Homo sapiens: one gene and its partners. The protein of the gene in region 2 purifies or fractionates together with the protein of the main gene of each other region. This does not show direct contact. Each region holds a gene or a part of one and is shown on either strand. Other genes may lie near its edges.

Region 1 (5,507 bases), on a different chromosome or scaffold from region 2:
CTAATTTTTTGTATTTTTTAGTAGAGACGGGGTTTCATCATGTTTGCCAGGATGGTCTCGATCTCCTGACCTCATGATCCACCCCCCTTGGCTTCCCAAACTGCTGGGATTACAGGCATGAGCCACCGCGCCCGGACTTATTGAGGTTTTCTTAATGGCCTAGTGTATGGCCTTGAAGAGTGTTCCGTGTGCGCGTGAGAAGCGTGTGTGTGGTTGTTATTGGGTAGAGTGTTCTAGCCTGCTTATGAAGTCCAGCTGTAGTGTTGTTCTTATCTTCTGGTTCTTTGTTGATCTTCTAGTTGTTCTATCCCTTATTGAAAGTGGGGTACTGGAGTCTCCAACTGACATACTTTTCTTTTAGCTTTTTATTTTGGAAAATTTCAAACATATATGAAAGAAGAGATAATGTACTTACTCATCACCCAGCTTCAACATTTATCAACATCTTGCCAATCTTACTGAATCTATCCTTCCTTACCTTTTTTAAAAATGTTTCCTAGAGTGTGTCAAAGCTCATCCCAGATGTCCTAATGTTTCTAGTAAATGCTTCTGCACAATTCTAAAAGACAAGGATGTTTTTAAACCCAGCCCCGACACTATCATACCTCACAAGATTCATGCTAATTCCTCAGTGTCTTCTAGTCCCAAGTCCATGCTCAAGTGTCCCCCCCTGTCCAGGCACCCTCTTCAGGGGTCCTCCATGTTTCATAGCGAGAAGGGGCCCTGAGAGTTGGGCACCCCGGGCAGGCTGGCTGGAGGGGGCTTTGGAAAGGAAGGCTTTGGCCAGCGTGTGAGGGTGCAGGTCTCACCAGCTCCTGTTTGGTCTGTTTCAGGAACAAATGTGGTATCTGGGGCTGGCGGTCTGAGAAGATGGAAACTGTTAGCGGCTACGAGGCCAAGGCAGGAGAGGCTAGGGGTGGGGGGCTGGGGGTAGGAGATGAGGTCCAGGAACTCAGCTCCTCTCCACATCCATCCCAGAGTAGCCCCTGGGCTCTGGAAACCCTGAGCATTTGTGGGAACTCAGCGGGCCTGAGTGCCCAGCCCCTGCGGAGTACACAGGGCTCACCCACATCATGGGCCCCTACCCAGGGTACCGAGATCAAAAGAGGAGTGTGTTCCTCTTGACCCTGGGGCTGCATCTCCTCGTTGGTGACTTCCTGGGGTTCAGACCCTGCCACCTCCTCCATTTTGGGGAGCAAGATCTCATCTGTCTCTGGGACAGGAGGACCTGGGTTCTGCACTGGTGAGGCTGAGTGTGGGGAGCAGGCTCTGAGCCCCCAGCTCCCCGTGTCCCCTGCTCCCCAGGTGTACAGTGCCACCAACGTGGAGCTGGTGACACGCACACGCACGGAGCACCTCTCTGATCAGGACAAGTCGAGGAGCAAAGGTAAACCCAGGTGCGCCTGCCTGCTGCCCGGTCACACCGTGTGGTGGGGTCACCCTGGCCTGGGATTAGGGGCCAGAGTTTCCCAGGATGAGCTGGGAGGCCTCCCCATTCCCGTCTGACCCCTCTTCCCCCAGACAGTAGGCTCCAGGGGTGGAGGTGGGCAGGGGCGATGCGAGCATTGTGACCCCTTACCAGCTCCCACCCCTTCTCCGTAGCGGGGAAGACTCCATTCCAGTCCTTCCTGGGGATGGCGCAGCAGCATTCCTCCCACACCGGGGTGAGCCGGGGCTGGGCCGAGACAGGGCTGGCGGGGGGCCGAGCCTGGGCGGGAGGGCACCCTCTGTCACCTTGATGGCTGAGTCCGCCCTGGGACCCACGCAGGCCCCCGTGCAGCAGGCAGCCAGCCCCACCAACCCCACAGCCATCTCCCCTGAGGAGTACTTCGACCCCAACTTCAGCCTGGAGTCACGGAACATTGGCCGCCCCATCGAGATGTCCAGCAAAGTACAGAGGTGAGGTCTGAGAGCTGGCTGGGGACTTGCCTCGGGACAAGGGCTCTTGCAGACCCCTCTCTGGGCCTGTCATAGTTAGGGACCCACTCCCTCGGCTGGCTTCTCTCTGGACTCCACTCCTGGAGGGCAGGAGTCATGTCTGCCTTATCCATGGTCCTCAGCCCTTAGCAAGGGGCTTGGCACAGAAAACCGGTAGTTTGTCTTTGATGAATGGATGGTGCCACCCATGTATGGTTTTCTATTGAATTTCATGAGTACCTGCTGGGGCCAGCGTGGCACAGTGGGAAGGGCCCCCAGCGACGTGGCCTGGGAGTGGAGCGTCTGCCTTGGTGGAACAGAACAGTTACGCTCTTGCCTCGTGAGGAGCCTTGAGCAGGTATAGGCGGTAACAGCAGGCACAGTGCCTGCACAAGCCTAGCGCTCTCCCCACCATCTCAGGAGGATTCTCTTAGCCACCCAACAGTCGCTGGGATTCGAACCCTGGCAGTCTTGCCCTGGGGTGTGCTGGACATAAAAGTTTGGCAACACGTGAGCTGGTGACCAGCTCTGGGCTGAGGAGGAAAACGGGGCTGTGGGCCAGGCCCAGAGAGAAGCCCACAGCCTGGCACCTGGCCTCCTTGTCCAGACCAGATGAGCTGGTACGAAATCCTCAGGAGCCCCAGCCTGGGCCCAGGGAGGAGGGCAGCTTGGGCCACGTGGCCAGGACACCAGCTCCCGGGGGAGGCGGGCAGCGGCATCTGAGCAGAGCAGGGCACTCCAGGCCAGGCAGAAGGTGGGTAAAGGCAGCTGCCCACGAACCAGAGGGCAGTCCTCAATGGAAGGGCCACCAGCCGTGCCTCACCCATGTCCTGTGGTCGGCTGGGCAGGTTCAAGGCAACACTGTGGCTGAGTGAAGAGCACCCGCTCTCCCTGGGTGACCAGGTGACCCCCATCATCGACCTAATGGCCATCAGCAACGCTCACTTTGCCAAGCTGCGCGACTTCATCACTCTGCGCCTTCCACCTGGCTTCCCCGTCAAAATTGGTGAGAGGCTGGGCACAGGCAGCGGGAGGACCTCAGGCATGGCACCCTCCCTCAGCGCAGTCCCTGGAGAGCTGCAGGGGCCGGAGGCACAGGTGGCTCTCCGCCAGGGCTCAGGCGTGGCTGTCTTCTCACAGAGATTCCCCTTTTCCACGTGCTCAATGCCCGCATCACCTTCAGCAACCTGTGTGGCTGTGATGAGCCCCTGAGCTCCGTGTGGGTGCCGGCCCCCAGCTCTGCTGTTGCCGCATCAGGTACCCCAACGGGAGGAAGAGGGAGCCTGCACAGCTTTCTGGTCACCAAGCCCCGCGGGTTGAGCGTGGCCCCTCTGCCACCTGCCTAGGGAACCCTTTCCCGTGCGAGGTGGACCCCACCGTGTTTGAAGTGCCCAACGGGTACAGCGTGCTGGGCATGGAGCGCAACGAGCCCCTCCGGGACGAGGACGATGACCTCCTGCAGTTCGCCATCCAGCAGAGCCTGCTTGAAGCGGGCACTGAGGCGGAGCAGGTGGGACTTGCCCAGGGGGTGGGCTCTGGCCTCTGCAGCCACACGGCAGAAGTGACAGCTGTGGGCTCTGGTGGCTGCAGGTGACCGTCTGGGAAGCCCTGACCAACACCCGGCCCGGTGCCCGCCCTCCTCCCCAGGCCACGGTTTATGAGGAACAGCTTCAGCTGGAGCGGTGAGCCCCTCATGGGGCTGGCTGGGTCCCTGTCCCCCCAGCCCTGGCTTGGCGGGGAGGGGGATAGCAGGAAGGTGCTAGGACCCCAGGCCCTCTGCAAGGCCACCCTCTGTCAGCAGCGCTATCTGCCACCAAAGGTGGTGTGAGGGGTGGGGAAGCAGGGCCCTGCCTTGTCTCCTCTGCTTGCCACCCTGTCTTTGCCTTTGTCCTCCAAAGCCGGTCCCCAGCCCCTCGGCTTCTGCCCCAGCCTTGGCGCTCACTGGCCTGTTCTTCCCTCCCCTGCCCTGCCTGGAAGGGCCCTCCAGGAAAGCCTGCAGCTGTCCACAGAGCCCAGGGGCCCAGGATCCCCTCCCAGGACACCCCCAGCCCCCGGTCCACCCAGCTTTGAAGAGCAGCTGCGCCTGGCCCTGGAGTTGTCTTCACGGGAGCAGGAGGAGCGGGAGCGGCGCGGGCAGCAGGAGGAGGAGGACTTACAGCGGATCCTGCAGCTGTCACTCACTGAGCACTGAGCCATAGCCCCGGGAGGGCTGGCCAGGCCACTCCCTGCCCGCTTTTGTAATTTATTTATTTATAAACTCTCTGCTGCTGAGCTTGGGGCCTGGAGCCCCAGGAATGAGCAGGCAGGGGAGACTGAGATGGAAATAAAGAGACTGTCGCAGCAGGGCTGCTCTGCTCACTGGGCTGGAGCGGTGGGGACCCTGAAGGTGGGGCGCTGTGGAGAGGCACTGTGGATGGCGGCCTCAGACCTGGGCTTGAATCCTGGTCATGGTCCCCTTAGCCTATCTGAGCCTCAGTTTCTTCAGTTGTAAAATGAGGAGACCACCCCCCACCCTCCGCCCCTCAGGGCTGAAAGGAGCTGGCGAGAGTCACGTGTCCTTACCAAGCAGGCGTCCTGTGAAAGTCAGATCCCCTGTGCCCTGTCCCACCTGCTGGGGACCCGGTTCGTCCTGCCACCCAGCCTAGTCTTCTGGAAACCGGCCCACGTGCCTGCTGGGGAGGAAAAGCCTGGGTCCCCAGGCACCATTCACCTCCAGCTGGGAAGAGCCCCGACGCCGACCCCTGCAGCCAAGCCCAGGCCCTGGCCCTGACTGCGGCTTGTTCTCTGCGGGTGGGTTTGCGCAAGTCACTTCCGCCTGCGTAGCTGGAAGCCCTGCCCTGCTCGCCTCCGAGGTGGACCTGAGAGCCCCTCATGGGCTTCCTGGGTTATTTGTAAACCCCAGGCCGTTTTCCCCGGAAGCCTGTCTTCCAGTGGTTCCTGCGGAGTGGGAACGAGAAGGCCGACCAGCAGGGAGAAATGTTTGGGGTGGGGGCCCTTGGCCGAGGGCGCGCCGTGCCTGATCCTCTCTAGACCTGTCCCCCACCTCCCCACCTCAGCTCTGCCTCCCTAGGACCCGCCTCTGCAGGGCACAGGACGCTGGAGGCCCAGAACAGCTCAGGTGCTCCCGCTGGGCCGGCCCGGGCCGGGCGCTTCCTGGGAGGGGGACCAAACTCCCGGCCTTCAGCTCTTGCCCTCCGGGTCTCCGGGCTCCGCACCTGCGCCCGCCCCCGGCCTCGCCCCTGACCTGTGCCCAGGGGCTGGGCGGGCCGAACAGCGGAGACCGGAGGGGCGGGGCCCGGCCGCCCTGAGAAGCTCCGCGGGCCCGGCTGGGCGAGTGTCTGGCCCTTTAAGGGCCGCCCCCGAGGAGGTGCCAGGCCCGGGTGGCGCCGTCCGTCCTTCCTGGTCCTGCGGGTCCAGGACTGTCCGCGGGGTTGAGGGAAGGGGCCGTGCCCGGTGCCAGCCCAGGTGCTCGCGGCCTGGCTCCATGGCCCTGGTCACAGTGAGCCGTTCGCCCCCGGGCAGCGGCGCCTCCACGCCCGTGGGGCCCTGGGTGAGTGTGGTCCGGCCGTGGTGCCGCCCACGCAGTTGCT
Region 2 (8,825 bases):
TTATTGATATATACAAAGTGCCAAACTAAGAGGAATAGACTATGGGAGTCCAAGGAAAAAGCTAATGAATGGGTAGTGGCGTCTTTGAAGAAGGCACTATTGAAGCTTTGAGCAGTGAGAGAGATTAGGATAGGCAGAGAACAGAAAGCAATACCTTCAATGCAGGGGGAGAAATCTGAGCAAAGGTTTGGAATTAGTACCCAGCATAGCCAGTGTGGGGCTTCTGTGGACTCCAGCCTGGCTGGAGTGTATACTCCATTTTGAGGCTGGACTTTGGCAGACTGAGGAATTTGAACACTCCCCTGAAGGTACTGGGGAGCCACAGAAGGGTTTTGATTAAGTGAATGACATATTTTTAAAAGTGTTTTAGGAAGAGTAATCAGGCAGCAGTGGGGTCTGGCAGGACAGCCTTACAGTGATGGAGGCATGAGGATGGGAGCAGTGGGAATGCAAAAGGTGCAATTTCAGAGGAAGCTCTGCCCAGAGACTGAACCAAATGGAATCCTGAATCTCAAGCAGAAAAAAACCACATTAATTTGCTAAACCCGAACCATATCTAAGAATTAGCTTTCTTTTCCTTCATGGTTCAGTGAAAAAAAAAAATTAAATGGCTGCTGGAACCACTCAAACTGAAACCAAGTATATATTATCTAAAATTATTGAATATTTTAAAACAAACTACTATCCTATTCCCATATTGCGGTTTGTGCCTACAAAGTCTTAATACTGGCCAGGGACAGTGGCTCATGGCTGTAATCCCAGGACTTTGGGAGCCTGAAATGGGAGGATAGATTGAGCCTAGGAGTTCGAGGCCAGCCTGGGCAACATGTCAGAACCGCATCTCTACAAAATTTAGCTGGGCATGGCAGTGTGAGCCTGCAGTCCCAGTTACTTGGGAGGCTGAGGTTGGAGGATCACTTGAGTCAAGGAGGTTGAGGCTGCAGTGAGCCATGACCATACCACTGCACTCCAGCCTGGGTGACAGAGCAAGACCCCATCAAAAAAAAAAAAAAAAAAAAAAAAGAAAGAAAAGGAAAGAAAAGAAGGAAGGAAAAAAAAAGAAAAAGAAAAAACCCAACCAACCAAACAAACAAAAAACAAAATAAAGTGTTAATACCTTTAAGAACAGGGTTCAAAGGTTTGAATTGTGTTGCCAGAGGCTGGCTCTTAGAAGGAACAAAATGTAGCTACATATTTTAGTGGAGGCTTTTATTATATGTTGGAGTACTGCTTTCATGCCTGTTGGCATTACATCCCCCGGGCTCAGAGAAGTTAAGTAAAGTAAGTAACCTAAGAGTAAGAAAGTAAGTTGCTAGAGTCAGCATCTGGTGACAGAGCATAGATGACAGAGCCAGGATTCGAACACAGTCTGACTTCAGAGTCAGCTATGGCATACTGCCTGCCTATATATACTACTAGTCCACCCTTGGTGTTTTAGGAGGCAGGCAAACATAATTTGGGGGATGTCAGAAGTTGACTCCCAAGCTACAAAGGTGCTCCTGCAGTTCCACACTCACCCATACACACAGGTCTGTCCTTTTCAGAGAATAGTCCTTGTACAGCTGTCCGTTTTTGGGGGCAGTAAATAATCTGTGCATCCTCCCTGCCCTGTCCCCAGGGCCTAGTACAATGCCAGCTAATAGGAGACAATGTATGCTTATGCATGGGCTCTTGAGATATGCTCCTGAAAATACTGAAATCCAATTCAAACTCTGATTAATTGAAACTCCCTTAAAATTCCACTATGGGCCAAGTGTGGTGGCTCACACCTGGAATCCCAGCACTTTGGGAGGCTGATGTGGGAGTATCTCTTGATGCCAGGAGTTCAAGACCAGCCTGGCCAATATAGTAAGACTCTGTCTCTACAAAAAATATTTTTTTAAAAAATTCCACTACGGAAGCTTACTATTAAAAACAGTGGGTCTCAAACATTGATGAACTTGTTAACACAGATTCTTGACCCCATCACCAGAGATTCTACCAGATTCAGTAGGACTGGGGCTGGGCCTAGGAATCTGCATGTTTAACCATCTCTCTTTCTCAAAGATACATGCACAGATACACGCAGAGACACCCACAGGCACACACAAATAATGCACTGATACAAACAGGCAGGCACACATAGACACAAACACAGATGATTCTGATGCAGTCTGCCCTGTAACCACACTGACTTCACCTCCTTAGAGAAACACTGACTTTAAAGAATCTGAAGATAAATTCATCTGTAAAGTTTAAGTCTTTTCATATGTGAATAGTCCCTCTCTGATTCATTTTGGAGATCAGCCTTTGATTGTTTTTCTGTTTTCTTTTTTGCATTCTTATAGCAGGGGAGTCACATGTAATAATCATCCTAATGCCAGGGCGTTTCGTTGTGACTTTAAGTGTTTTAGATTCGTGATGAACTCCAGTGGCCAAGTTGTAAACTAGTTTGTGACATCCAGGAGGACAGGAACTTTCATTTAATTAATTCCACAGGTATTTATGTAGCACCAACTGTGTGTCAAGCACAGCAGTGAGCAAAATGAACCAGTTCCTGCCCTCATGGAGCTCACGTTCAAGTTGGGGAGGCAGACAATAACGTAGTAGACACATCAGTAAGTTATTTTCATATGGGAATGAATGCTACAGAGAAATTAGAAAAGGGTGATGTATTGCTTAGCTCGGGCTGCCATAACACGATACCATAGACCAGGTGGCTTAAACAATAGAAATGTACTTATTTCTCTCATTTCTGGAGGCTGGAAGTCTAAGATCAGGGTGCCAACATGGTCGAGCTCTGGTGAGGGCTCTCTACCTGGCTTGTGCCACTTCCCCTCTGTGCTCACAGTGACCTTTCCTTTCACATTCAAGTAGGGAGGGAGAGAACGAAAGTCGGGGTCGGGGGTGGGTGGGGGAGGGGCGTGGAGTAGGGAAGTCAGGGGAGAAGGAGGGAAAAAGAGGAGGAGGAGGAGGAGAGCGAGATCTTCCTTTTCTTATAAAGCCACCAATCCTATCCGATTAGGACCCCACCCTTGTGGCCTCATTTAACTTTAATTATCTTCTAAAAGCCCTATCTAAAAATACAGTCACATTGGGGGATAGGGCTTTAACACATGAATTTGGAGGGACAAAATTCATTCCATAGCGGATAATGTGATAGAGAGCGACAGGGCTGGGAAGGGGTGTCTTTGGACAGAGTGGTCAAGAAAGGCCTCCCCACGGAGGCGACTTTCAGGTTTTGTGTAGCAACTCAGCTTTAGTTGTTTACCAGGACATTGGTTTTTATTTGTTTGTTTTTTTGTTTGTTTTGTTTTGAGAGGGCACACACTGAAGTCTTTGAAGCCTGAATTCAGGTCCCAGTTCTACCACTTACGACTTGGGCAAGTTCTTTAACTTCTCTGTGCTTCACTTTCTTCATCTGTAAAATGTGCATGGTGATAGTCCCTATTTGATAGGATACTGTGAGGATTTGCAGAACTTTCTGCAATGATGGAAATGTTCTGTAACCTGCTCTGTCCAGTATAGTAAACACTAGCCACATGTGACTATTGAGCACTTGAAATGTGGCTGGTGAGACTTACCAACTGAATTTTTCTTTTTACTTAATTTTACTTAATTTAAATTTAAATAGCCACATGTGGCTAGTAGCTACCACATTAAACAGCACAGATGCAATGAATTCACACATGTGAAATGCTTAGCACTGTGCCTGGTACATAGCAAGTGTCAATAAGTGCTATCTAGGATTAGTGTTAGTGGTGGTTACAAGTATTTTTCTGGCAGGTAGGAGTTTTTTTTCGGGGAGTGGGGATAAACAATCACACTTTGATTTATTATAGTACATGGCTATGATGTCTCTTACTGTAGCTCCCCACCTGCCCACCTGTCTTTTCACTGAGCTGTATGGTAGCCCAATCCCAGAGTTGGGGAGGGGGCTGGGGAGGACAGCCTGCTCCCTGGGGACTGACTGGAGCATGCTCCTCCCTGTCCAGCCGGGTGGAGATCACTGGTGGGTACTACGAATACATCGATGTCAGCAGTTGCCAAGATATCATCCACCTCTACCACCTGCTCTGGTCTGCCACCATCCTCAACATTGTTGGCCTGTTCCTGGGCATCATCACTGCCGCTGTCCTTGGAGGCTTTAAGGACATGGTAAGGAAAGAATTGACTTTGCATTTCACAGTGGCCCCTGTTGGACATAGGGGGAAGGCTAGGCAGTTGGGGGAAATGCAGACACATATTTTGAAGGGAAGAATCAGAAGCAATTGCTTCAAGGATGTAGCTGCCTTCAAATGTCTCAAGTTGAAGGAGCCAGGTAATGTCATCAGTCTGCAAATATTTCTTGTTATACACAAATTACCTGTGTTCTGGAGGCACCTTCTAGGGGTGGGGGGTGAAAGGAGGAAGGGGTGTTCTCAGTTCCCCCATTCGCACTGGTTATGTAAACATAGTCTTTTATAGCCCCACCCCACACTTTTAGTAAAATTTTTTGGGAATAGTTTTCCCCTAACAAACTTTGGGAGAGATGGAAGGAAAGGTTATTCTAGCTATAGGTAGGATTAATGCTAGTCTTCCCCTCCCCAGGTATTTCATAGTGAAGTTTCTTCAGAAAGAGCATCTGGGCTCTTTTCTGTTTGCATTCGCAGAGCCAGCTCTAGGCTAAGTTGCTTGCCAGGTCTTGCCTTCAACTTGGACCTCAACCTCAGCCTCCCCACTTTCCATTCTTCCCTTCCAAATCTTTTCTATTTGTGTGTGTGTGTCTGCAAAGGCACAGCAGGACTCAGCATTCAGTAGGTACTCCATATAGTAGGCTTCTTTTTTTCCTTTCCTTCTAAGGCATTTCTAAGCATTTATTTGTTTATTTGATAAATCTAGATCTCTAATTATGGAGATAATAGCTTTGAGTTATGGTTATCAACCTGGCTTCATATAAGAATCACCTGCCCAGCATGGTGGCTCATGCTTGTAATCTCAGCCCTTTGGGAGGCCAAGACAGGAGGATTGACTAAGCCCAGGGGTTTGAGACTAGGCTGAGCAACAGCCCCTGTCTCTATTAAGAAAAAACAACTTTTTTTAATTAGCTGGGTGTAGTGGCACATATCTGTAGTCCCAGCTACTTGGGAGGCTGAAGTGGGAGGATCACTTGAGCCCAGGAGGTTGAGGTTGCAGTAAGCCATGATTGCACCACTGCACTCCAGCCTGGGTGACAGAGTAAGACCCTGTCTCTAAAAAAAAAAAAAAAAAAAAAAAAATGCTTGGGCTCCTTCTCTAAAGATTCTGATTTAATTGGTCTAAACTGAAGCCCAGGCATCAGGTTTTGTTTTTTGGTTTTTTGGTTTTTTTTTTTTAAGCTCCCAGGTAATTCTGATCTGCAGCCATGATTGAATACCACTGCTTTAAATGAACATCCCACATCTGTTTATGGAATTATTTTGTGCCTAAGAGGGACTTTCCTTTGACCCCAGAAATTAGCTCCTAGGCCCTTGGCTGTTTCTGTCAGATTTTGGGGTCCCTGAAGAACAGAACCTGAAAGGCAGTTTGTAATTTGATCCTGGACGGTCAAAAGGATGAATGTTGGAAAGTGAAAGGTGGGGTAGGACAAGGGAAAAGAAAGAAACTCTGTCGTTTTGGATTGCAAGTCTCCAGCAGTACTGGGCTGACTGGAACTATTAAGTGTTCCTGCTAGTGACTCTAAGTCAAGAGAAATCCTTTCCTGCCCATCTGCACTCTCTCTTTCTTCTTTCTCTCCCTCTCTCATCCGCACATTTCTCTTCCCAGCTTCCCTCCCCAGACTCTGGAATGCCCAAGCACTAACAAGTAGGGGAAGCATCAACAAAGGTGGAGCCCCAGGAGGGAAAAGGATTTCCTGTAAATTTGGCCTTGAGGAAGCTTTTAGGTTAGAGAGCTGCAAAAAAAGCTGTTTCTGGGTTGGGGCTTCTTTGGAGAAAAGAATGCCCTTTGTTCTTGGAGAATTTCCCCAGGGGGCAGATGAAAGTACAGGTATTGTGTGGAATCTCAGCAGCTTTGGCTGGAAGAGAAGCTCCCAGGTTTGGCGAGTTGAGGAGATGGGACCTCAGGATGAGTGTTAAGAGTTCTCTAAATTGTCCCTAGAGCTTTCAGGCTTGGATGGCAGAGATACCTTGATGCACAAATGGAGTAGGTGGTAGCTACTTGGTAGGCTCTGTGGGGTGCCTGTAAGGCTTCCCCCTCTCCAATTTTACCCTACTGTGGGCGCTGAAACTGCCACCATGTTTTATTCCTTACTTTAAGATAAGCATTGTCCTTTTTCTCCTTGTCCACTTTCAAGATGCGTGTATTAAACAAAGGAATAGGCTAGTAGGCCACAGAGGTGTTTATACTTTGAGTTACTAGTCTCTCAGTGTGAAGGATTTGATAAGACCCTTTTCCATGGTGATGGAAAGAATTGGATTTTGAAGGCAAAGGGCATCTGAGGAAGACAGGGAGAGTGGCTAGATGGACACTTTCAAGAAATTTCTGGAAGTTGGAAAGAAGGGAGGAATAGGAAGATGATATGCTAAGGAACACAACCCTGCCAAGCTTTTAGCCTTAGCTTTAGTCCCGTTTTCCCTCACTGTCCCCCTTTAAAAAAAATTGAGGTGGAAGTCACAAACATAAAATTGATCACTTCAAAGTGTACAATTCAGTGGCATTTAGTACACTCACAATGTTGTGCAATCATCATTTCTGTCTAGTTCTAGAACTTTTTCATTACCTGAAACCTGTACCCATTAAACAATCACTCCTTGTTGCCCCTTCCCTGAGGCCCCAGCAACCCCTAATCTGCTGTCTGTCCCTATGGATTTACCTATTACAGGTATTTTCTATAAATGGAATCATGCAATATTCGAACTTCTGGGTCTGGCTCCTTTCACTTATCATATTTTTTTTGTTTTTAAAATTCATCTACCTTGTAGCATATATCAGTGCTTCATTTCTTTTTATGGCTGAATAATATTCCATTGTATGGATAGACCACGTTTTGTTTAGTTTTTTATCCATTGATATACATTTGGGTTGTTTTCATGTTTTAGCTACTGAGAATAGTGCCTTCATGAACAATCACTTACAAGTACTTGTTTGATTACCTGCTTCCAATTCTTTTTCCACCTATGGGTGGAATTGCTGGGTCATTTGGTAATTCTATGTTTAACTTTTTGAGGAGCTGCCAAACTGTTTTCCACAGCAGCTGTGTCATTTTACGTTCCTACCTGCAGTGTGTGAGGGTTCCAATTTCTCCACATCCTCACCAACACTTTCTCAAAAAAAATTATAAACATTCTAGTGGGCACAAAGTGGTATCTTGTTGTGGTTTTGATTTGTACTTCCCTGCTGACCAGTGATGTTGGGCATCTTTTTATATGTTTGTGTGCAATTTGTATGTATATCTTCTTTGGAGAAATATCTATCAAGTTTTTGCAGATTTTTTTATTTTCCAAACAATATTCAAGATTGTTAAACAAAATTTTAAAGTATTATAAAATGTTTAATTTTCATTAGCTTTAAGGTTTATGTTACCCCCAAATTTTGTATATAACTGAAGTTTCAAATCTACTAACACTCACTGAATTGATACCACTCTGGATTCTAAGGCATCAGTTTCTTCTTACCAATTTTTCTTTGCTTCTTCTAACATTTCTTGTGTTTCATCTTGAGAATGGCTAATGAAAACATCACCAATTTGATAAGGTATCATTAAGCAGTCATCATCTGCAAGCATGATGTCATTGCAAACAACTTCTAAATTGTGGAGTTGTTTCCTTTTAACTTCTGTTTCTTCCTTCAGCTCTGTGATTCTACTCATATTCCTTGCAAATTTGTTTACCTAATGTTGATCTTCAAAAGTAGCGTTGAAATTTTCTGCAGCCTGTAAACAACAGCACTAGTAGCACCTACCTGTGGACTTGTGAGGGCTGATGTGATAACCCAGGTAAAGTGCATGTATTAGTCCATTCTCACACTGCTATAAAGAACTGCCCGGCCGGGTGCAGTGGCTCACACCTGTAATCCCAGCCCTTTAGGAGGCCGAGGTGGGCAGATCACGAGGTCAGGAGTTTGAAACTAGCCTGGCCAACATGGTGAAACGCTGTCTCTACTAAAAATACAAAAATTAGCCGGGCATGGTGGTGCATGCCTGTAATCCCAGCTACTCGGGAGGCTGAGGCAGGAGAATCACTTGAACCTGGGAGGTGGAGGTTGCAGTGAGCCGAGATCGTGCCATTGCACTCCAGCCTGGGCAATAGAGTGAGACTGCGTCTCAAAAAAAAAAAAAAAAAAATAGCCCAAGACTGGGTAATTTATAAAGAAGAGAGGTTTAATTGACTCAGCTCTGCATGACTGAGAAGGCCTCAGGAAACTTACAATCATGGCAGAAGGAGAAGCAGGCACATCTTACATGGCAACAGGTGAGAGTGCATGTGAAGGAAGCAAAGGGGGAAGAGCCCCTTATAAAAGCATCAGATCTCGTGAGAACTCATTCACTATCATCAGAACAGCAGCATGGAGGAACCACCCCCACGATTCAATCACCTCCCACCAGGTCTCTCCCTCAACACCTGGGGATTACAGGGATTACAGTTCAAGAGGAGACTTGGGTGGGGACACAAATCCAAACCGTATCAGTGCATCAAGTGCGTAAAAGCCAACCTCAGTCAATGGGACCTTCAGTTTCCCATACCCTAAGGACAAGGCCTGGGCTGCAGGGTCCTCATGCTCCCCAGAGGCACCCTCAGTACTGAGAGAGGTGCCCAGAGCCCTCCATGGATTCCGGCCTGGGGACCCCCTGCCTCAACAAGCCAGGTGACTAAGCAAATGCTCAGGGC
Region 3 (9,123 bases), on a different chromosome or scaffold from region 2:
CATACTGTTGCTGTTCTTATTCAGCATTAGTTGTGGACACATACTGTGATCAACATTATCTACATATATATAATTTCTCAAGAAGTTTTCATTGAGTCCAAATTGCTTAATAGACTTAATAATCAAAGTGAGGATGTATATATGCAGAAAGTATACCAATCATCACCTTTCTGAAGAGCCTTGTTAACAATTTTATGCTAAAATGCACTATTATTAAATTGCTTTAGAGTTTGTACTCCTGCCAAAAGAGTACTAGTATTTTCAGAATTAAAAACAGAAAACTGTGTTATTGAGAGCTTAGCTGAAGAAAGGTCAGTTTGCCAAGTGGCTGCTTGAGGTAATAAATGGTAAATAATATTTATTTTTGTCTTATTTGGCATGCTTATTATTTTTCTTCTGTCCTCACTGGTGGGCAGTAACCCTTAGAAAGATACTGAAAGGAACAACTTCGGGCTTAAAATAAAATTATGACTGGATGGCTTCACTTGATAGTGTCATATTTTTATGTCTTATGCAAATAACACATATATATCTTCATTATTCCATATTAAAAAAATGAATAATTTCTGGAAAAGTATGATAATTATTGCATGTAGATCAATTAAGGAAATCTATGTTAAGGAATATTGGAAATCCAATTAAGGAATACATTTTAGCATAAAATAGATAAATACTAGGGTAGATCAATGTGACAGAACAACAGTGAACATTATGATCAAGTGTCTCTTTTTTCAACTTTCAGATTTTGTGTGCTATGAATGAAATGCTTCCCTCTCCAAATTTGCATGCTGCAACCCCAACCACCAATGGGATGATATTTGGAGATAGATCTTTAGGAGACAATTCAGTTAGGTGAGGTCATGAGAGTGGGGTCCTCATGATGGGAATTGTGCCCTTATAAAAAGAGACCCCAGAAAGTTTGCCCCCTCTCTGGCTATCCTCATGCACCAAGCAAAGGTCATGTGAGGACACAGGGAGAAGGCAGCCATCTGTAACCAAGGAGAGAGGCCTCACCAGGCACTGACCTTGTGGGCAGCTTGATCTTGGACTTCTAGTCTTCAGAACTGTATGAAATAAATTCCTTTTGTTTAAGCCACACAGCCTATGGTATTTTGTTATGGCAGCCTGAGCTAACAGACACTGTGTACGTACTTTCTTAAGTGTTATATGGATTTAGAAGTCGTCAGAATTATTTTCCATATGCAATTGGCTATACCTTTAATCCTCTAAGTCATAAAACTATTTATATTATTAATTAATTTTTATAATCAATGATGCCCAAAGAGGCCTTAATTTCTTAGTCCCCTTTCACTTTCATTATCAGCATCAGCAATTTGTTAGGGCCATTTTGGAGGAATCCTCCCTCTCTAAAAATAAATTCTTTGCCACTTGTCATCAGTGTATCAATTGGAGAAAGGTCTGTTAAGATGCAAATGCTGAGTGGTTGGTAGGCACCCTCACCAGAAGCTGTTCACTCTAGGCAACCTCTTAGATAAACAGCCTGACATAGTCACTTAGTATCACAGGCGTCTCAAATTTAACATCTCCAATATTAATTCTTGATTTGGCACTATCCCAAACTGCTCCTTCCCCAGTCTTCACCATGTAATTTAAGGGCAAATCCAAAACACCAGTAAACCCTGCTGGCTATACCTTAAAAACAGAATAATCATCTCACTACTTCTCACCATCTCAACTGCTATACCCTAGTAGGTCACCATCATCTCTAGATTACCAACAGATTGCTAACAGATCTTGTTTCTACACTAACCTCCTTCTGTCTGTTGTCAACAGCTGAAAGAGTGAGCCTTCCTAAATCGTATCATGTCCCACTTAGATTTCAAACTCTTCGGTGGCTCCGTATCACAACCAGAGTATAAAAGCAAGTACTTAAAATGGTCTGTGAAGCCCTGCATGATCTGCTCCAATGTCCCCGCTTCTGCAACCACTTCCACTACTCTCCCTCTTGCTCAATCTATTCCAGGCTCACTGGCCTCCTTGTTATTCTTCAAATAGGTCAGGCAGGGTTTTGCTTTAGGACCTTAACTCTAGTTCTTCATGGAAATGTCTTCCTACAGATACCTCCAGAATGTCTAACTCATTCATGACCTCTAAGTTTTTGCTCAAATCTTGCCTTTTCAATAAAGCTACCCAAGTACTCCATTTAGAGCTACAACCTACTCTGTCATCTCCCTACCCCTTAACCTTGACTTAGGTTTCCTTATTTTTCAATAGCATTTATCATCTTCTCACATGGTTTATAATTTACTTACTCATCATTTTTACTTACTATTGTCTGTTCTCCCTGCTAGAATGTAAGCTCCAAAAAAGCAAGGACATTCCTCCCCTCCTATTGATGTATGTTTTCCACATCTAAAATAGTGTTACATTATACATGCTCAATAAATAATTATTGAGTAAATGAATTGTTCTATCTAAATGAAATTTCTTAGTGATATAAAATAAACTCCATTAATGTTGGTTTCCATTAGCTGGTATGTCTTATTTATTTTATATATATATATATATATATATATATATATATGATTTATATGAGGCAAGTAGGCTCTGGGTTTGTGATTGAAATTTGCTGAGGAGCTGTGACTCTTTTCTCTCCCTCATTCATATAGTGGGAAAGAGAAAATGAGGTGGCAACAGATAGGAAAAAGAACTGCAGTTAATTTATTGTTTACATTTTACTGGTAAATGTGCTGGTTAATTGAATATCTAAACTTATGATAAGACCAATGCCACCAAGATTCAGAAGAAATTCCATAGTTAGACATAATCCTGTAAGCTTTATAGTCACCAGAAAGGATGTACCCTGTGTAAGAGAAGTAATTAAATTGGCTAATCTTGGTCAAAACAATGTGTTTCCTTGGCTATTTCTCTAGTTATATTTTCTACTGCCATTTAAAAACTTTTAAAGCCTTTTTTCTTTTATGGTGTAAACAATTTTATTATATTCTGAAATACAGCACTATGGTTGGGGATGGAGAGAAAAGGGGACATACAATGTTTAAGAAACCACATTCTGCAGCCATACTCTCAGATTTGCTAGTCACTATGCAACTGCATTTGTGGGTAGTGAAATACAATTATCCACCTTACTTTTCACATTTGTAAAGTGGGAATAATAACATATACCTGATGGAGTTGTTTTGAGAAATAACACTTCACAACACACAATGCCTAGTACGTCGTATTCACTCTATAACTATTTTTATAAAGTAAAGAAGGATTTTATTAAAAGAAAAATATTTAAAAAGCAAATTTTTTAAATAGACATGACATTTTCATAAAATGCTATTGTTCATACAGTATTAACTTGACTCATGGAGGCAAATTAACATTACTGTTATTTAAAAAAAACTCTATGGCCTTATTTGAATTTTTATACTAGAATATTTAAAATTTGAAACACTAGTTTTAGAGAGAGAGATGCTGTGTTGTTCAAAGTCCTCCTCTGCATCTTCATGGTAGGAACTTTCTTTGGTAGCCCTTTCTCTAAGTTAAGAGATATATTGGCAGGAACTATGAAGGATCTGATATTTTACCCTAGTTATAAGCAAACAAGTAGAGTGCCACAGTTTCATGGAAGTTGGCAGAATGTGTGAGATTCCTGAGTCTGAGACAAATAACTTTATTACTCAAAGCACAACAGGCACCATGAGCTTCATACTTCCATAGATTCCCCTCGTTCTGAAGTCCCACAAGGCGAAGAGGAGCTGCCAGATGGGTGTTGTACATGCACTGTGTTTGTTATGCAACTGGAAGAACTCCAAGCTTAGGAAAGTCCTAAGAAGGCTGCTAGCAAACGTACCCAAACTTTGCCCTGGCAGGAAATACTATCTTTGCAATTAAATGTGCAGAAAGGCAAGAAACCCATGGGGCCTTAACTCCCAACTGCACAAATGCAGCTGCATCAATAAGGCTATTTTGATGAAAACAAGATGCACAAAAATTTTGACCACAGAATCAGACTAACATTGTAAATGTAAACACTCAATCCTTCCTAAGCAGTTCTTTGAATATGTAGTTAATCCGTTGGAATAAAATTTTGCAATGGTTTGTTCTTTCTAGCGCTTTATCATTTGATACCTTCATAAGCCATGCATTTTTCCCTTTTGCCACGTAGGTTTTACCCTTCCCCTCTATTTATTTATGCCAATAATTTAACCTTAGTGGCTTAAGTATTTCTTACAGCATTGAAGGAACTTACAGACACTTTCCCAAGAGTAGCTAGGACATCGGCAATCTTCCTTTCTCTCTGCTGTTTCCTCTGAGAATTGTTTCACAAGGTCCAACATCCTCTTCTGTAGCATAGCTGAACAACAGATACTCAGCTCTGCAAGGCTGATTTCCTTTGTGAATAGTTAACATTTTTTTGATAGCCTTATTTTTAAGAAACATGTTAGCCCTTCTCTTGTTCTTCAGAGATAACTCAAAATAATATCATTTGGTTTTTTCATTTGTTCATAAGCCAAAGCTACAGCTGCCTTGTCCTTTTAAAGTCAGAGCTACAAAATTCATTTGAGTTCCAGAGATAAATCAGACTTGTCCATTGCTATTACTTAATAAGCCAAAGTAATTGAACATTTAACAAGAGTTTGCCCAAAGGCTGAGTCAGATTATATACAGGACACCGTCTATATTATCAGTGTATAAACAGCAAATAAGTTTTTAGTGTATGTTCACGTCCTGTGCAATATTTGGGACATACTTACACTAAAAAAGTTTATTTGGAAATCAACTTTAACTAGATATCCTGTTTATTTGCCAACATGCCACAATTCAGGTCACCATTTATCTACCAAACAGAATCAATAACCTGTTCGTCCAATGTGGCCTCAAGTGGGTTTTGGCGCAGAAGCACTCCTCCTGGACCACAGGTGTGGTCCTGGTTGCAAAGTTTTGATGTGACATCAACACTACACAAAAGTAAATGTAACTGCAAAATTTTGAAATTCACAGATGGGTCTTTGAAGTCCAGCTCAAAAGCGTGGAGGGCTGGTTAAAATAAGTCACAGACTTGCCGGTTTGGGGTTTCTAGAAAGAAAAGTAACTTGAGGAGTTGAAGGCTTGTAGAAGACCTTTCCACAGAGAGTGGGAATTCCGTTGCAGCAGCCAAGGCTTCTTCGGGATTTAGAAGGAGAGCGCGCGAGAACCTGAGGGAGCCAGTAAGAGTCGAGCAGGGACTGGAGGGCTCCCGATGGGGTGTAGCCAATCAGGGCAGAGATGGGTGGGGCTAGGCTGCGGGAAGGGGCGGACTGCAGCTGAGTTGGCTCCAAAGTGTGGGACTCAGCCAATCGGAACCGTGCAGGGCGGGGCTGGCCTGCGGAAGGGGGCGGGTTCGGAGGAGTGAACTGTGCGGTTAGTGCGCCTTTCAGCCTCACCTGCAGCTGCGCCTCCTTGCACCTGCGCCTGTGCTTTTTCTCCCAGCACTGCGGACGCGACTCGAGGGTGACGCTCGCTCCGCTCGTCCCGCTCGTCATGGCCTACCCGGGATACGGAGGAGGGGTGAGTCCCAGCCGCTTGGTCGTGTCCCTCTTCCTCGCGGGGTGTGGCGCCCCCGGGGGCGGTGCCAACGTGCGGGTCCGCCCTTGGCTCCTGCTCCCTGCGTCCGCGCCTGGTACTCGGCGGCGCCGGATTCCGGGGCTGTTGGGGGCCAGGGCCTGGGCGAGCATTGATCCTGGGCTGACTTGGAGCCGCAGGTTTTCTGGTCGTTGAGGACCCTCGAGGAGCGTCCTGGTGGAGCCGAGGGAGTAATGTGTGTTTGGAAATTTATTTCCTGGAATGGAGGAACAAGCCACCCTCTTCTTGTTCCAGTAATCGTTTGTGGTACTTCCCTCCCCCGCCCCCCACTCAGTGTTGCTAGAGATCCTCTTTTTGAATTTCCTGACCACTTCTTGTTCTTTAAGTTCCTTATGAATAAATTAAGGTGTACGGTAAATAACTCCTAATCTTTACTGTTATACGAAGGGCAATCTGTTCTAGACTCCCCCGCTCGCCCCCAGGCGGGGGGAAGTTACTCTTTGTTATAACTTTTATCCTGCATCACCTTTGGGAGTTGCAAGTTATAATCGTAGAGTCCTGGTGGCTAGCCCCTTCTTTTCAGAAAGGAGCCCAAACCTTTAGTATCGATGTCAGTGATCTACACGCTGTGTTAACAGAGTTAACAGTAGTTTGATCCATTGCGGTGTGGGTAGAATATAATATATTTTCTATTTGTTTTTTACCTAAAAAGAGAAATTGTGTTTTACTGATTTTAATATAGGACTTGACTTTGGGCTATGGTTGTGGTCTTCAAAAGAGTTACTCCTACCCCTTGGAGTTCATGGTGGTGGTGGTGGTGGTGGTGGTGGTGGTGGTGGTGGTGGTTGTGGTTGTGGTTGTTGTTGTTGTTTTAGGATATGAATTTCCAGGTCCTCAACTTCCACACATACTTGTTCCTAAAATTGATTTGCTTTCCTTAAGACTTGCCTCAATCCCCTCTGGCACCGTCCACTTTGTAATGCCTATGCCTCCTCAGTCCTTAAATTTAGGAAGGAAGTTTAAGGTACCTAAGGAAAGTAAAGCCCCTTCGAAGATTAATCAAGATAGCATAAACCTGTGGGTCTTTAAAAACGTCCCTAGCGTATACGTATTTTCATTTGGTTGAAGCTATCTGTTAGAAGTTTGTATATTTACTCCTCTTGGTATGCTCTGAATTCATATATGTATGGTAGAGTGAGGTGGCAAGAGTAATACATTTTCATTCAAATAATTTGGTGCTTCCTTACCCACTTTTGTCAGAGTGCTTGAATTTGATGGAGAGTTCCACGACACAATAAAGAGAACGTCTGTATGTGTTTTGAATATTTAAATCCCCTTTTCCATGAATTTAAAATAAACAACTCTTTTCAGCTGTTGTCATGCTCATTATTAATCGCCGGAAAGAGAAGTACCCTCAATAGCTGAAGCAATATATAGATTAGAGGCACTGATTTTAAAAAATGTAATTGAAATATTTTAAGATACATTGGATAAAATTTTGGGATAAAACTTACATGATTTCTTTAGTAGGAGAATATTAATAAGATAGTTGAGACGTTTATAAATCCTGTTAAAGGAAACCCATGCCTTATTAATGTTTCTTATATTCTTTTAACAAAATATAAAATGTCAGCTGCTAGACCTAATTGTTTTGATAGTATACTTTTATCTAATTAAGTGCATGATTTATCTCTGTAGGAGATGCATTTCCAATAGATTTTTACTTTCTTCTTTTAAGAATTGTTTATAAAAATTGTATTATTTTCTTTTTTTTACTAATTGTATACGAATAAAAATTATAACTCAATGTAAAGGACTTTTTTCTTTGTTTCTCACTTTGGTCACAGGAAATGAAACAATCTAAAACTTCGTTACATGTTTTTGTTTGTACATGTTGTATTATACAAGCTTCAGTGTTTTCAATAATAAAAAAACATTTTAAGCACAGAAAACTTAAACAGATTAGATTTTCACACAAGAAATAGCATACAAAATCAATTCAAAGATGAAGAATCTGTCCTTAGGAATAACTTTTAATCTGTTTTCCCTTCCCAATTTGCAGCATTAGCTTTCCCCAGTCCCATAATTTGAGAACCTGGTGGTCAGATTAATGATGGTTACCAATTCTTTACCACTCCCCTTATCGAAAGGCACAGACTATTTCTCCACTTTCTTCAATCTGGATTGGGCCTGTTTCACCTTCATCTGGTAGAATACAGTAGAAAAGACACCATGGCAGTTCCAGACTCAATATTTTAAGAGGACTGGCAGCTTCTCTTTCTCTCTCTTAGAAGCTGACTGCCAAGCTATGAAAAAGTGGAAGAGCCATGTGAAAGGGCCCATGTGGAGGAGAACTGGGGCCCCTGGCCAACAAGGTTCATCCCTAAACACGGTTTACATAAATTTATATTTCAAGTTGTCCTCTTGACAGTTTCAAATGAGTCAAAATTGATCATTATTATTATTACTACATAATGTGGGTAAGGAAAGGCTTAGACAATATTTTCATGTCCAAGCCTTTCATGTTGCTTTGCATGTTTTTGAATCTTTACTATTGCCATTTTGTTATGGCTTTAGTTAAAACTAGATCACATAATCTGTAACATCAGAGAATCCCACATATATAAACTGTAATAAGTCACAATAGGCTGAAAAGAAACAAGTGGGAGGCCAGCATACAGAACTCTATGTCATCCCTCAGGATACTACCAGAACCACAGCAGTTTCTTTAAACATTTTGCTTCCCGCCCCTTAAAAGATTTTTGAAAAACTATATACCCTTTTCCCATATTTTATATTGACATATAAAGTTTTTATTTTAAGTTTAAATAGTTGTAAAGAATACAATACCCAACATATTGTAAATGTTGACACTTAAAGTTTCATTGTATTTACACATATATTCTTCTAAGTATGTGTCTTGAGGTTTACTTCTTAGTTTTACTTTAGGTAAAATCTTGCATTGTTTTACTTTTTGTTTACTTCAGTGATGTTGGTAAACATTTTTTAAAATTGTACATGTTCCTCTTAGATTAAGTTCTTAGAGGCTAGTAACTTTCTTTTTTCTTTTATACTTCTTTTAATGCTGGGTAATATATGTTGATGAATTGAATTATGTCTTAATGTAGGACATCTAACATTTTGTAGTTAAAATTTTTGTGATAAGATTATAAGCTTTTGGTAACTGTTTACTTTTTGACGGACTTCTAATAATTTCTTTTAATCCAACTTTCATAGATAATAGGTAGTATTTATATTACTAACCTTCTCCCCTTTCACTATTATAGTTTGGAAATTTTAGCATTCAGGTGCCAGGAATGCAGATGGGACAGCCAGTGCCAGAAACAGGCCCAGCTATACTCCTCGATGGATACTCTGGGCCAGCATATTCAGACACTTATTCCTCAGCTGGTGACTCCGTGTATACTTACTTCAGTGCTGTTGCTGGACAGGTGAGATGCTAAATTTATTGCATAAATATGTCTTTAAAATTATTGTTTAAGAGAAATGTCAGCTATTTAGAGTATCATTTTAAATGTATATGAAATTTATATTTTATATGTATCTAGACTAATTTTTTTCCTGAGA

What was found. The genes of interacting proteins can lie anywhere in the genome.
Region 1: the proteins of TMEM255A (region 2) and ANKRD13D purify together in Homo sapiens (affinity purification with mass spectrometry; 3 studies listed by BioGRID and IntAct, with this or other methods). This does not show direct contact.
Region 3: the proteins of TMEM255A (region 2) and GCA purify together in Homo sapiens (affinity purification with mass spectrometry; 3 studies listed by BioGRID and IntAct, with this or other methods). This does not show direct contact.

The regions. Positions count from the first base shown.
Region 1 is NC_000011.10:67,298,225-67,303,731, forward strand, and holds the end of ANKRD13D (ankyrin repeat domain-containing protein 13D), read left to right. Parts: intron 1-833; coding exon 834-900; intron 901-1,305; coding exon 1,306-1,387; exon of another isoform or gene 1,388-1,397; intron 1,398-1,602; coding exon 1,603-1,664; intron 1,665-1,768; coding exon 1,769-1,899; intron 1,900-2,765; coding exon 2,766-2,923; intron 2,924-3,057; coding exon 3,058-3,174; intron 3,175-3,263; coding exon 3,264-3,427; intron 3,428-3,507; coding exon 3,508-3,599; intron 3,600-3,894; coding exon 3,895-4,108; 3' UTR 4,109-4,260; downstream 4,261-5,507. Other genes in the region: SSH3 (protein phosphatase Slingshot homolog 3), read left to right, coding at 5,402-5,467. UniProt on the Homo sapiens protein: Ubiquitin-binding protein that specifically recognizes and binds 'Lys-63'-linked ubiquitin. Does not bind 'Lys-48'-linked ubiquitin.
Region 2 is NC_000023.11:120,272,197-120,281,021, reverse strand, and holds part of TMEM255A (transmembrane protein 255A), read left to right. Parts: intron 1-3,974; coding exon 3,975-4,137; intron 4,138-7,489; exon of another isoform or gene 7,490-7,870; intron 7,871-8,825.
Region 3 is NC_000002.12:162,338,756-162,347,878, forward strand, and holds the start of GCA (grancalcin), read left to right. Parts: upstream 1-5,376; 5' UTR 5,377-5,493; coding exon 5,494-5,520; intron 5,521-5,612; exon of another isoform or gene 5,613-5,841; intron 5,842-8,822; coding exon 8,823-8,987; intron 8,988-9,123. UniProt on the Homo sapiens protein: Calcium-binding protein that may play a role in the adhesion of neutrophils to fibronectin. May play a role in the formation of focal adhesions.